Linked DNA regions of Homo sapiens: all the other regions are linked to region 1. Evidence: fine-mapped expression QTL. A gene starts in region 1. Each other region holds a variant in brackets. All regions are shown on one strand. Distances are between the middles of the regions. Region 1 holds the start of ATP2C2-AS1 (ATP2C2 antisense RNA 1). Region 2 overlaps ATP2C2 (ATPase secretory pathway Ca2+ transporting 2). Region 3 overlaps SLC38A8 (solute carrier family 38 member 8). Region 4 has its middle 41 kb from the start of MEAK7.

Region 1 (2,500 bases):
ATACATAAAGCTATTACTTTTTTCTTGGGCCCTGAGTTATTTTGCAGTATTGTATAGATAGGTGTGTGTTGATCATAAGCTTCTAGATTTTCTGTGGCCTTCATTTTGATTTTCTCTTGTACCCAAGAGTTTTTAAATTTTGCTGTGCTAGAGAATTTCCCCTAGTCCTGTCACTCGTCTTTAAATTAGATTGCATAGTGATTAGAGATGTCATCTGTATTATTATTTTTTTAAGACAGAGCCTCACTTCATTGCCCAGGCTGGAGTGCCATGGTGTGATCTCAGCTCACTGCTACCTCTGCCTCCCAGGTTCAAGCGATTCTCCTGCCTCAGCCTCCCGAGTAGCCTGGGATTACAGGCGCCCACCACCATGCCCAGCTAATTTTTGTATTTTTAGTAGAGATGGGGTTTCGCTATGTTGCCCAGGCTGGTCTCAAACTCCTTACCTCAAGTGATCCAACCGCCTCGGCCTCCCAAAGTTCTGGGATTACAGGTCTGAGCCACCATGCCCGACCAAGAAGTCATCTATATTAGATCTACTCTTTGGAATCACTGAGGTTTTGTGTCCTTTCATGTGGTAAGTTAATATAATGAATTTTCTGTATCCTTTGCCTGAATTTCCCATACTGTTTCCTCTTTAAATTTGAATGTTGTGTTGGTACATAGTCTGGCCTATGGATTTTTCAGTGGTGATTATATCTTGTTAAATTTCCTTCTTGGTCTCCTTTAATGCTTTTGGCCTTTCTTTTAATCTTGTCTGATTAGACTGTGTCACCTTGGTCTTGTGTGTTGTTTGTCTTTACCTGGTGTATTTTTGCCCTATGAGTATATCTTATCTTCTTACACACTTTGAAATAATTTTAGATTCATATAGACTTCCAAAAATTGTACAGGAGTTTCTGTCACTCCATGAGTGAGTGGATAAAGAAATTGTGGTACATCCATGCAGTGGAATACTAGTCAGCCATGAAGAAGAACACACATAAAACAACTTGAAGGGACCTTACAGGTATTATGCTTAGTGACAAAAGCCAGTCTTAAAAGGTTCTATACCATGATTCCATTTATGTAACAGTATTGAAGGAACAACATTATGGTGATGAAGAAGGGATTAGAGGTTGCTGGGATTAGGAGGGTGTTACTATAAAAAGTAAGGAGGAGTTTTTCAGGGGCGATGGAAGTTTTGCCTCCTCATTGTAGCAGTGGTTACCTGAATTGATGTGTGTCATACAATTTCATAGAACTTGTGTTGTGGGGGGCAGGAAACCACTCTCAGACCCAGTGATTGGCTAGAAAGACTCAGGACTCAGAAACTGTTGAGCTCAGAGGGAGAGGGTGACCAGTCTCTGCAGTTGCAGCCCTGGGGCTGTTCTAATCTGTATCTTTTCCTGGTAATAGACATGGCTGTGAGCATGACAGGTGTCAGTGAGCTCTGTGTGCCTCATCAACGAATCATCCAACCTGAAGGTGGTTGTGGGAAACTCTTGGACCTGCAGTCAGTATCAGAAGGCCTGGGCAGACTTGGCCAGCCACCTGGAGCACTGTGCCCTTAAACTCAGGTTTGCCTAACATCAGATACTATGTAAAAACCAGTGAAATTGAAATAGGTCTGCTGATAACAATATCATACCAAGCTTGTTAGAACAAGTTTATCTGTGTCTTAAAAAAAAACAAAAACAAAAAAACCCTGGGATTTTGATGGTAATTGTGTTAAACCTAATACAACAATCTCGGGAGAATTGATACTTTTTTTTGAGACAGACAAATAGTATTCAATTTTAAATTTCAGTTTCCAGTTGTTCATTGCTAATATATAGAAATACGACTGCTTTTTGTGTGTTAACCTTGTATCTTGTGGCTTTACTAAACTCGTTGATTCTACGAGGGTTTTTCTTTTTTAAAAAGATTTGTTGGGATTTTCTGTGTGGACAATTACGTTATCTGTGATTTTCTCCTTTCCAGGCTCTTTGCTAATGCCTTTTAACTTTTCTTGCCATATTACACTGGCTAGGACTTCTAATACTGTGCTGAATAGGAGTGGTGAGGCTGGTCACCCTTGGACCTTATCCTGTGGGGAAAGAATTCAGTTTTTCATCATTAAGTATGATGTTAGCTATAGGTTTTTTGTAGATGTTCTTTATCAGGTTGAAGAAGTTTCCTTCAATTCCTAGTTTGAGAGTTTTTATTACAAATGGAGATTGAATTTTATCAAATGCCTTTTCTGCATTAATTGATATAACCATGTGTTTTTCCTTCTTCAGACTATTAATATAGTGAGTTATATTGGTTTTTGAATGTTGAACTTTTCAGTTATATTGGTTTTGAATGTTGAACTTTGGAATGCTTGAATTCCATTCCTCAATTAACCCCACTTCGTCCTGGTGTCTTATATTCTTCGTACCTGGCTAGATCTGATTTCCTCATATTTTGTTGAGGATTTTCGTGCATATATTCATAAGGGATGTTGGTCTCTAGTATTTTTCTCTAGTTTTGGTATCAG
Region 2 (2,500 bases), 95 kb after region 1:
GACATGTCAGATGTGGTTCTAGGATTTTTTTTAACGTGAATGACGTCATTGAAGGAAATATTTCTTTCTACTATTCCAATGGGCAGCCTTTAAGGCAGTCCCCAGCCATCACTCCCTCCCAGTACCCATGGCCTGTGTAACCCCTTCCCTTTGAGTGTAGACTGGACCTAGACTTGCATCAAACGAATAGAATATGGCAGAAGTTATGAGACCTCATTTCAAAATGAGATTCAAAAAAGGCTTTGGTTTCCAGTCTCTTTTTTTGTTGTTGTTGTTTTGAGATGGAGTCTCGCTCTGTCACCCAGGCTGGAGTGTAGTGGCGCAATCTTGGCTCACTGCAACTTCCACCTCCTGCATTCAAGCGTTTCTTCTGCCTCAGCCTTCTGAGTAGCCGGGGTTACAGGCACCCACCACCACACCCAGCTAATTTTTGTATTTTTAGTAGAGATGGGGTTTTGCCATGTTGGCCAGGCTGGTCTCGAACTCGTAACCTCAGGTGATCCGCCTGCCTCGGCTTTCCAAAGTGCTGGGATTACAGGCGTAAGCCACCATGCCCAGCCTGATTGAGTTTTAATAGACATCACCAATATATCAAAATAAGGCTGTTCTATTTGTACTTTATAATTTTATTATAAATTTGACTTTTTTTTTTTTTTTTGAGAGGGAGTCTCGCTCTGTCTTCCAGGCTGGAGTGCAGTTTCGTGATCTCAGCTCTCTGCAACCTCCGCCTCCTGGGTTCAAAGGATTTTCCTGCCTCAGCCTCCGCAGTAGCTGGGATTACAGGTGCCTGCCACCTCGCCTGGCTAATTTTTGTATTTTTAGTAGAGAGGGGTTTCACCATATTGGCCAGGTTGGTCTTGAACTCCTGAACTCAAGTGATCTGCACGCCTCAGCCTCCCAAAGTGCTGGGAAAACAGGAGTGAGTCACCGCAACAGGCCTAAATTGAACCTGATTTTATAGTTGAGTTATAAGCAAACAGTTATGTTTATTACAAGTTTTATGCTTATACTTACTTGATATCACACTTTTGTACAAATCATTTAAGACAACACTGGCCAGGTGCGGTGGCTCACGCCTGTAATCCCAGCACTTTGGGAGGCTGAGGCAGGCGGATCATGAGGTCAGGAGTTCGAGACCAGCCTGGCCAACATGGTGAAACCCCCATCTCTACTAAAAGTACAAAAATTAGCTGGGTGTGGTGGCGGGTGCCTGTAATCCCAGCTACTCGGGAAGCTGAGGCAGGAGAATCTGGGAGGCAGAGGTTGCAGTGAGCCAAGACCATGCCATTGCACTCCAGCCTGGGTGACAGGGCGAGACACTGT[C/G]TCGAAAGAAAAAACACTGTGGGGTTGCAGTACATTTCTTTAAGAAGATGCCCACATGTTGCTGAATTCTGAGAAACACTAATGATCTGTGAGTTTGGGCAAGCCTTGGGTTAAAGTTGTGTGTGCATGAGCCTCAGAATTCCCACACACATACTCTTTTCCAGTAACTGAGTGTAATCTCTTAAAAACACAAATCTGACTGTGCCTGTTTTATCACAGTTCTAATGTTTGGCCCATCTGGGAATAAATGAGTGACTATCATGTCCTGACTTAAAACCCTTCAACGATCCCCCACTGCTCCAGGGATAAAGCCCACACTCTGACAAGGCTCCGTACGACCCTCCTCTGCAGCCTCATCCTACCAACCCCAACGCCTCTACCTCTTCTGTCTAGAACTCGCTGTCAATCCCTGCCCTTCATCCAGCTCACCCTTTGCCACTCCTATTCATCTTAAACATCACGTCTTTCTCCCAGCTCTGACACGTTGGCATTAAACAGTGAACTGTGACCAGTTGCTGGGTGCCTGTCTCTGCCTCCTGGTTGGGATACCTGAGGGTAGAGAACTGTGCATCCTTATCAGCCCCAACTCCAGCTGGTAGCACTCACTTGACACACAGAGGGAGCCCCCTCCGTGAATCTAGGTTGAATGGATGGGTGGTCACTACATTCGTCTGTTGGGATCCAAGCCTCACCCTGGAGAGCCCAGAAGGATGCATCTGCTCACCAGCCAGGAAGGCAGTGGGCTGGGGCTATACCTGCCTCACTTAAGAGATGGGAGCCCTGAGGGGCAGAGACAGCTTCCCCCGGAGTTGGCGCTGAGTCACCTGGGAAGCAGGAATTTCTGCTCCAATCTCTTCCTTACCCTAATGTTCAGGTCAGCAGTGAGAAGCTTTTTCTAGTAACTAAATTAAGGAGGCCTCTCAAAGACCTTTTTGTTGTTGTTTTGTTTTGAGACAGGGTCTCACTCTGTTGCCCAGGCTGGAGCACAGTGGCATGATCACAACTCACTGCAGCCTTGACCTCCCAGGTGCAAGCAATCCTCCTGCTTCAGCTTGGTGAGTAGCTAGGACCACAGGTGCACACCACCACGCCTAATTTTTTGCAGAGATGGCATCTGGCTATGTTGCCCAGGCTGATCTTGAACTCTGGGGTTCAAGTGACCCTCCTGCCTCAGTCT
Region 3 (2,735 bases), 450 kb after region 1:
TTCAGGCTGTGGGCGAGGCTTTCAGAGGTGAGGGGTGTGGCCTTGTGGCTTCTCCCTCGGGCTTAGGGTGGAGCTTTCAGAGGTGAGGGTGTGGCTACACAGCTCCTCCCTTGGCTCTGGGCGGGGCTTTCAGAGGTGAGGGGTGTGGCCACATAGCTCCTCCCTCAGGCTCTGAGAGGAGGTTTTAGAGGTGAGGGGTGTGGCCATGCATCTCCTCCCTCAGCTCTGGGCGGGCCTTTCAGAGATGAGAGTGTGGTCACACAGCCCTTCCCTCAGGCTCTGGGCGGGGCTTTCAGGGCTGAGGGTGTGGCCACACGGCTCCTCACTCAGGCTCTGGGTGGAGCTTCTCAGAGGTGAGGCTGTGGCCACGTGGCTCCTCCCTCACACTCCCTGGTCTGGGCTGTTAGATTAAATTCTGATGCTGTGACCAGGTGGCCAGTTGTAGCGCTGGCTATTTCCTGTGGTGGGAAGGACTGCCCAGGACAGGTTTGAGTTGAGAGAGGATCCTTTGGGAGCTTTAGGCCAAGCTACATGGCCCTGAATCCTAGCAGAACTATTTAAAAAAAAAAAAAAAAAGGGCTGGGTGCAGTGGCTCATGCCTGTAATCCCAGCACTTTGGGAGGCCAAGGCGGGCGGATCACGAGGTCAAGAGGTCCAGACCATCCTGACCAACATGGTGAAATCCCGTCTCTACTAAAAATACAAAAATGAGCGGGGTGTGGTGGCACGCACCTGTAGTCCCAGCTACTCGGGAGGCTGAGGCACGAGAATGACTTGAACCCGGGAGGTGGAGGTTGCAGTGAGCCGAGATGGTGCCACTGCACTCCAGCCTGGCAGCAGAGTGAGACTCCGTCTCAAAAAAAAAAAAAAAAAAAAAAAAACACACACACAACAAAAGAAAGTAATGGTAGCTGCCAGTTGCCGAGCACTTCCCGGGTGTCAGGCATGGACTCTCACCATCTCCTCATAGACTCTGCTGTGGGGGGGCATGTTGTCAAGGTTGCCTGAAAGATGGGGCTCTGGGAAGTCGGTTGCTGCCAGACCTCTGCCTAAGTCATTAGGGCATGTTGAGCTGGGACTCCAGCCCCGTCCTTCCAGCTCCACTGTGTTGCCTCTCCAGGGGGCCTGAGCCAGGGGCACC[C/T]ATGGGCGGAGGCCTTGCTGGCCTCCTGGGTCCCTGAGGACCTCTCCCGGGACCTTTTTGTTGCTTTGGGTTTGATAACGAAGAACTGTGGGTGACCCTGTCTTTTTTGCAGGTTTGTGCCTCATCTGTGCAATGGGTGTCGAGCCTATAGGACCAAGAGTCAAGTAAGTGTCCCTAAGATGAGGTGGCACCCTGGGTGTGCCCCGGATCAGAGTAAGAATGTTTCAGGGGACCCTGCAGATCCTATTTCTCATCCTCTGCATCCTGCAGGTGAGAAACCTGCGAGCCACAGGAAGAGAGTCTCTGTCTACCCAGTATGAGGGCATCTGAGCCAGGATAGGAGCCCGGGCCAGTAACACCGGGTCCTCCAAGGGCCTTCCCTTCCACTCTGAGGGTCTGTGGTTGGGATTTCATGTAGATTCCAGCCTCTGGAAGCACCCAGTGGTGCATCTGTACCCTCCTTTGTTACCTGGCTCGGACCCAGGGCAGGATCAGGGTGCAGGCTGGGTTAGAAAGGCCCCATGGCCGGCCAGACACCATCATCACAGCAGTGGGTCGCTGTTCCCAGGCTCCTCTGCTAGGCACTGAGCTAGGTCCTTTTACATGTTCACCTCCCCACCATACCCACATGTCTTCATCCTACAGCTGAGGAGGCGGGCCCGGATGCTAGTGAGGACAGAGCTAGGATGCAACCCAGGCCCCTGGCTCCCAGGCCCCATGCTAACCCACCTGCCTGGCATACAATGCTGTTGAGACCAGATAATTTGGATCTTTCCTTCATTTGACAAATATTTATCCCCGAGCGGACCTGTGGATCAGACACGACTGAGCCTCTGTACTTTGCCACTGAGCAGCTGAGTCTGACCCACGGAAGAGGACGATGTACACGTGAATGATGTGCGCTTCCTCAGCCGCCCCTGGGTAGTCTGGGGTTCTGGGTGACTCCCTCCCATCCCATAGATGGGGAAACTGAGGCTGAGGCAGGTAAAGAGATGATGTATTAGTTTTATGGGGTTATTGTAACAAATTACCATAAATTGGGGCATGGTGGGGAGGCTTAAAGCAACAGAAATGAATTTTTTCCCCAGTTCTGGAGCCAGGAGTGTGAAATCAAGGTGTTGGCAGGGCTGGACTCTCTGAAGGCGCCTCAGCTTCTGGTGGCCCCAGGTGCTCCTTGGCCTGTGGCTACATCACTCCAGTCTCTGCCTTTATCATTATTTAGCTTTCTCCCTGTGTCTCTGCGTCTCAGAAATCCCTCTGCTTTTATTTATTTTAGTTTTTGAGACAGAGTCTTGCTCTGTTGCTCCGGCTGGAGTGCAGTGGCGTAATTGTGGCTCACTACAGCCTCAACCCCCTGGGCTCAAGCAATCCTCCTGCCTCAGCCTCCTGAGTAGCTGGGACCACAGACGCCCACCATCACACCTGGCTGCCTTTCTTTTATAAGGATACCTACCATCAGATTAGGGTCCACCCTAAATCTAGGTTGTATCTTCTCTCAAGATCTTTTCCTTAATTACATCTGCAAAACCCAGTTTCCAGATAAGCTGGCAAGCACAGGTTCCAGGTAGACATGAATTTTGGGGGCCACCCTTCA
Region 4 (2,763 bases), 79 kb before region 1:
CTGAGGAGGTGGAGGAGCTGGGATTTGAACTCGTCAGTGAGCTGGACAATCTGGTGTTTCCCCTCTTCCCTCCTTGCTTTCCTCCCTTTCTTCCTTTTCTCTCTCCCTCTCCCCCTCCCCCTTTTCTCTTCCGTTACTCCCAGAACCGTCCACCGTGGCCTCTTTACATTCCAAGCTGGATTTTCTCCTGATCGCTCCAGTTCTCGAGGCGAAAAGCAAAGTCAGTGCTATGCAACAAGGCCGGCTGTGGTTGTGCCCCCAATGTCTCACTGGCTTCGTCGCCCACCACGGTCCTCATTTATTCTGTTGCAGGCCCTCGGGTCTCCTCGCTGGGCCTCCTGCTCACACAGCACCATCCTGCCTCAGGGGGACTCCTGCTGTGCCTGGAGCCCACTGACCTCTAAGTACCCATGCTGGTCCCTCATTCATGCAGCTCCCTGCTCAATGTCACCTTAGTGGAGTAGAATGTCACCTTGCCCTGACCCCATTCTAAAACAGCACCTGTGTCTTTTCGAGGTCCCCGAGCCCCACTTATGTTTCTTTGTAGCACTTATCACCACCTGATACCGTGTGTCTATTCGCTTGTTCATTGCTGTCTTTCCCCGCCAGAAGACAAAGTGTAATCTCCAGAGGGTAATCTCCAGTAGAGCAGAGACTTCATTTTGATCGTCGTTACTTGCTCAGCACCAAGAACAGTTCCAGGCATGGGGCAGGTGCTCAATAAAACTCGTTGAATGCATGACTCTGTATCTGTATCTATGTCTATATAGATAAATAGCTTAGCTTTATTTATTTATTTATTTATTTATTGAGACATGATTTTGCTCTGCTGCCCAGGCTGGAGTGCAGTGGTGCCATCACGGCTCACTGCAACCTCTGCCTCCCGGGTTCAAGCAATCCTCCTACCTCAGCCTCCTGAATAGCTGGGACTACAGGTGTGCACCACCACGCCCAGTTACGTTTTTCTATTTTTTAGAATAGAAATCTGGGATTACAGATTTGAACCACCACACCTGACCAGCATTGTATTTTTTTAATGCAGACAGTTCTGTAACTTTTTTTTTCATGTATTAGTCTGTTTTGGAGACCTTTATACTTCACTGCATATAGACTGGCTGTCCTCAACCACGGGCAATTTTGCCCCCAGGGAACACTCGGCAATGTCTGGATGCATTTCTGGGTGTCACACCAAGGAGGCTGGTGCTACTGGCATCTGGTAGGTAGAGCCAGGGATACCGCTAAACCTCCTGCAATGCACAGGACACTCCCCCCCCCAACCACAAAGGATGATCCAGCCCAAATGTCACTTGTACCCATGTTGAGAAACCCAGATATAGACATAGCATTCTTTCTTATGGTAACAGATTCCATAGTGTAAATGTACCATCATTTAACCACTCACTTACTGATGAGCATTTTAGGATATTTCCAATTCTTTACTGTTGCAAACAATGCTGCAAGGAACATCCCTGCATAAGCATCCATGCCTCTTCATGCACATGGGCAGGTATTTCCCGAGGACAGATAGCCAGCAGAGGGTCAAAAGAGGACGTGCACCATGTTTTATTTTTTATTTTTTTTGAGATGGAGTCTCGCTCTGTCCCAGGCTGGAGTGCAGTGGCGCGATCTCC[G/A]CTCACTGTAACCTCTGCCTTCTGGGTTCAAGTGATTCTCCTGTCTCAGCCTCTAGAGTAGCTGGGATTACAGGTGTCTGCCACCATGCCTGGCTAATTTTTGTATTTTTAGTAGACACGAGGTTTCACCATGTTGGCCAGGCTGGCAAACTCCTGACCTCAGGAGATTCACCCACCTCGGCCTCCCAAAGTGCTGGGATTCCAGGCGTGAGCCACCGCCCCTGGTCAGGACATGCACCTTTGACATGGAGACAGCCTCTGTCAAGTCGCCCTTCACACAGGCTGTAACCAAAGCACACTTCCAGCACAGCATGGCAGGGGTGCCAGCTTCCACCATCTGTGCTGTGGGTGATGGCTTTGAGACCTTCCCCAGGGGCCTCTCAACACAGTGCACTTAATCAGAGGGAGACTTGTCCTGAGCATGGAGCGAAGGCAATCCACTTTTGCTGTTTCTCTCTGTGCCAGCTCCTCCCCACCCTTCTCTGTGACACTTCAGATCCCAGCTCTGCCACTTATCGTCACCTCACCTCTCCGTGCCTTAGTTTCTCCATCTGTAAAATGGAGCTAACAATAGCAACTTCTGCTCAAGGAGAGTTGGGAGAATTACATAAGTTAATACTTGCAAAAACTTTCAGGCCGGCTAAGCAGTCCTCGAACATGAGCTATTATCCTGTGACATTCCTCCAGAGACAGCAGCGTGCATCATCTATAGTGCCGAAAATTGGAAGCAGGCAGGTGTCCCCCCTGTAACGGAAACACCAAGTGCTTTGCACGGCACCATGAAGCAGCGTGATATCCAGGCTTTAAAAATAATCCCAGGATTCAGGCTCAGGGGTCAGCCAGGAGGAGAGGACACCCGAGAATAGCCCCGATGGAATGCAAATCCTGAATTTACCCAGGAACTGGCCAAAGGGGCTTTTGAGCCTGAACGAGGTCAATTATCCTAAAGTGCCACCTTTCCGAGTTTTCTACTACTTCATAAGCACACGGAGTGCAGTTAGAAATTGAATTTCATTTTTGCACATTTAAACGAAATGATCCTGGGGACTCTGGGGCACAGAGGAAATGCCCAGATGGTGTGAAATGAGGGTGTGTGCAGCCCCTGATGCCCCCGGCCCAGGTTTCAGGCCTC

What was found. PIP is the estimated chance that this variant, and not a neighbour inherited with it, causes the effect. A credible set is the group of variants that fine-mapping cannot tell apart.
Region 2: its variant is the best candidate, but not a certain one, in a credible set for the expression of ATP2C2-AS1 in lung (GTEx, PIP 0.67).
Region 3: its variant is the best candidate, but not a certain one, in a credible set for the expression of ATP2C2-AS1 in vagina (GTEx, PIP 0.87).
Region 4: its variant is the best candidate, but not a certain one, in a credible set for the expression of ATP2C2-AS1 in whole blood (TOPMed, PIP 0.67).

The regions. Positions count from the first base shown.
Region 1 is chr16:84,466,363-84,468,862 of GRCh38, reverse strand. It overlaps ATP2C2-AS1 (ATP2C2 antisense RNA 1), which reads left to right and starts at 1,502. Exons shown (of 3, transcript NR_146503.1): 1 at 1,502-1,559.
Region 2 is chr16:84,371,278-84,373,777 of GRCh38, reverse strand. All of the region lies in intron 1 of ATP2C2 (ATPase secretory pathway Ca2+ transporting 2), which reads right to left. Among named protein-coding and RNA genes, the nearest start is that of ATP2C2, 4.0 kb to the right of the region's middle. The variant C/G (reference allele first, on the strand shown) is at 1,324.
Region 3 is chr16:84,011,571-84,014,305 of GRCh38, reverse strand. SLC38A8 (solute carrier family 38 member 8) reads left to right here. Exons shown (of 11, transcript NM_001080442.3): 10 at 1,254-1,305. Among named protein-coding and RNA genes, the nearest start is that of SLC38A8, 30 kb to the left of the region's middle. RefSeq lists a silencer at 178-327. The variant C/T (reference allele first, on the strand shown) is at 1,142.
Region 4 is chr16:84,544,751-84,547,513 of GRCh38, reverse strand. No RefSeq gene overlaps it. Among named protein-coding and RNA genes, the nearest start is that of MEAK7, 41 kb to the right of the region's middle. RefSeq lists enhancers at 1-124, 125-876, 2,366-2,763. The variant G/A (reference allele first, on the strand shown) is at 1,632.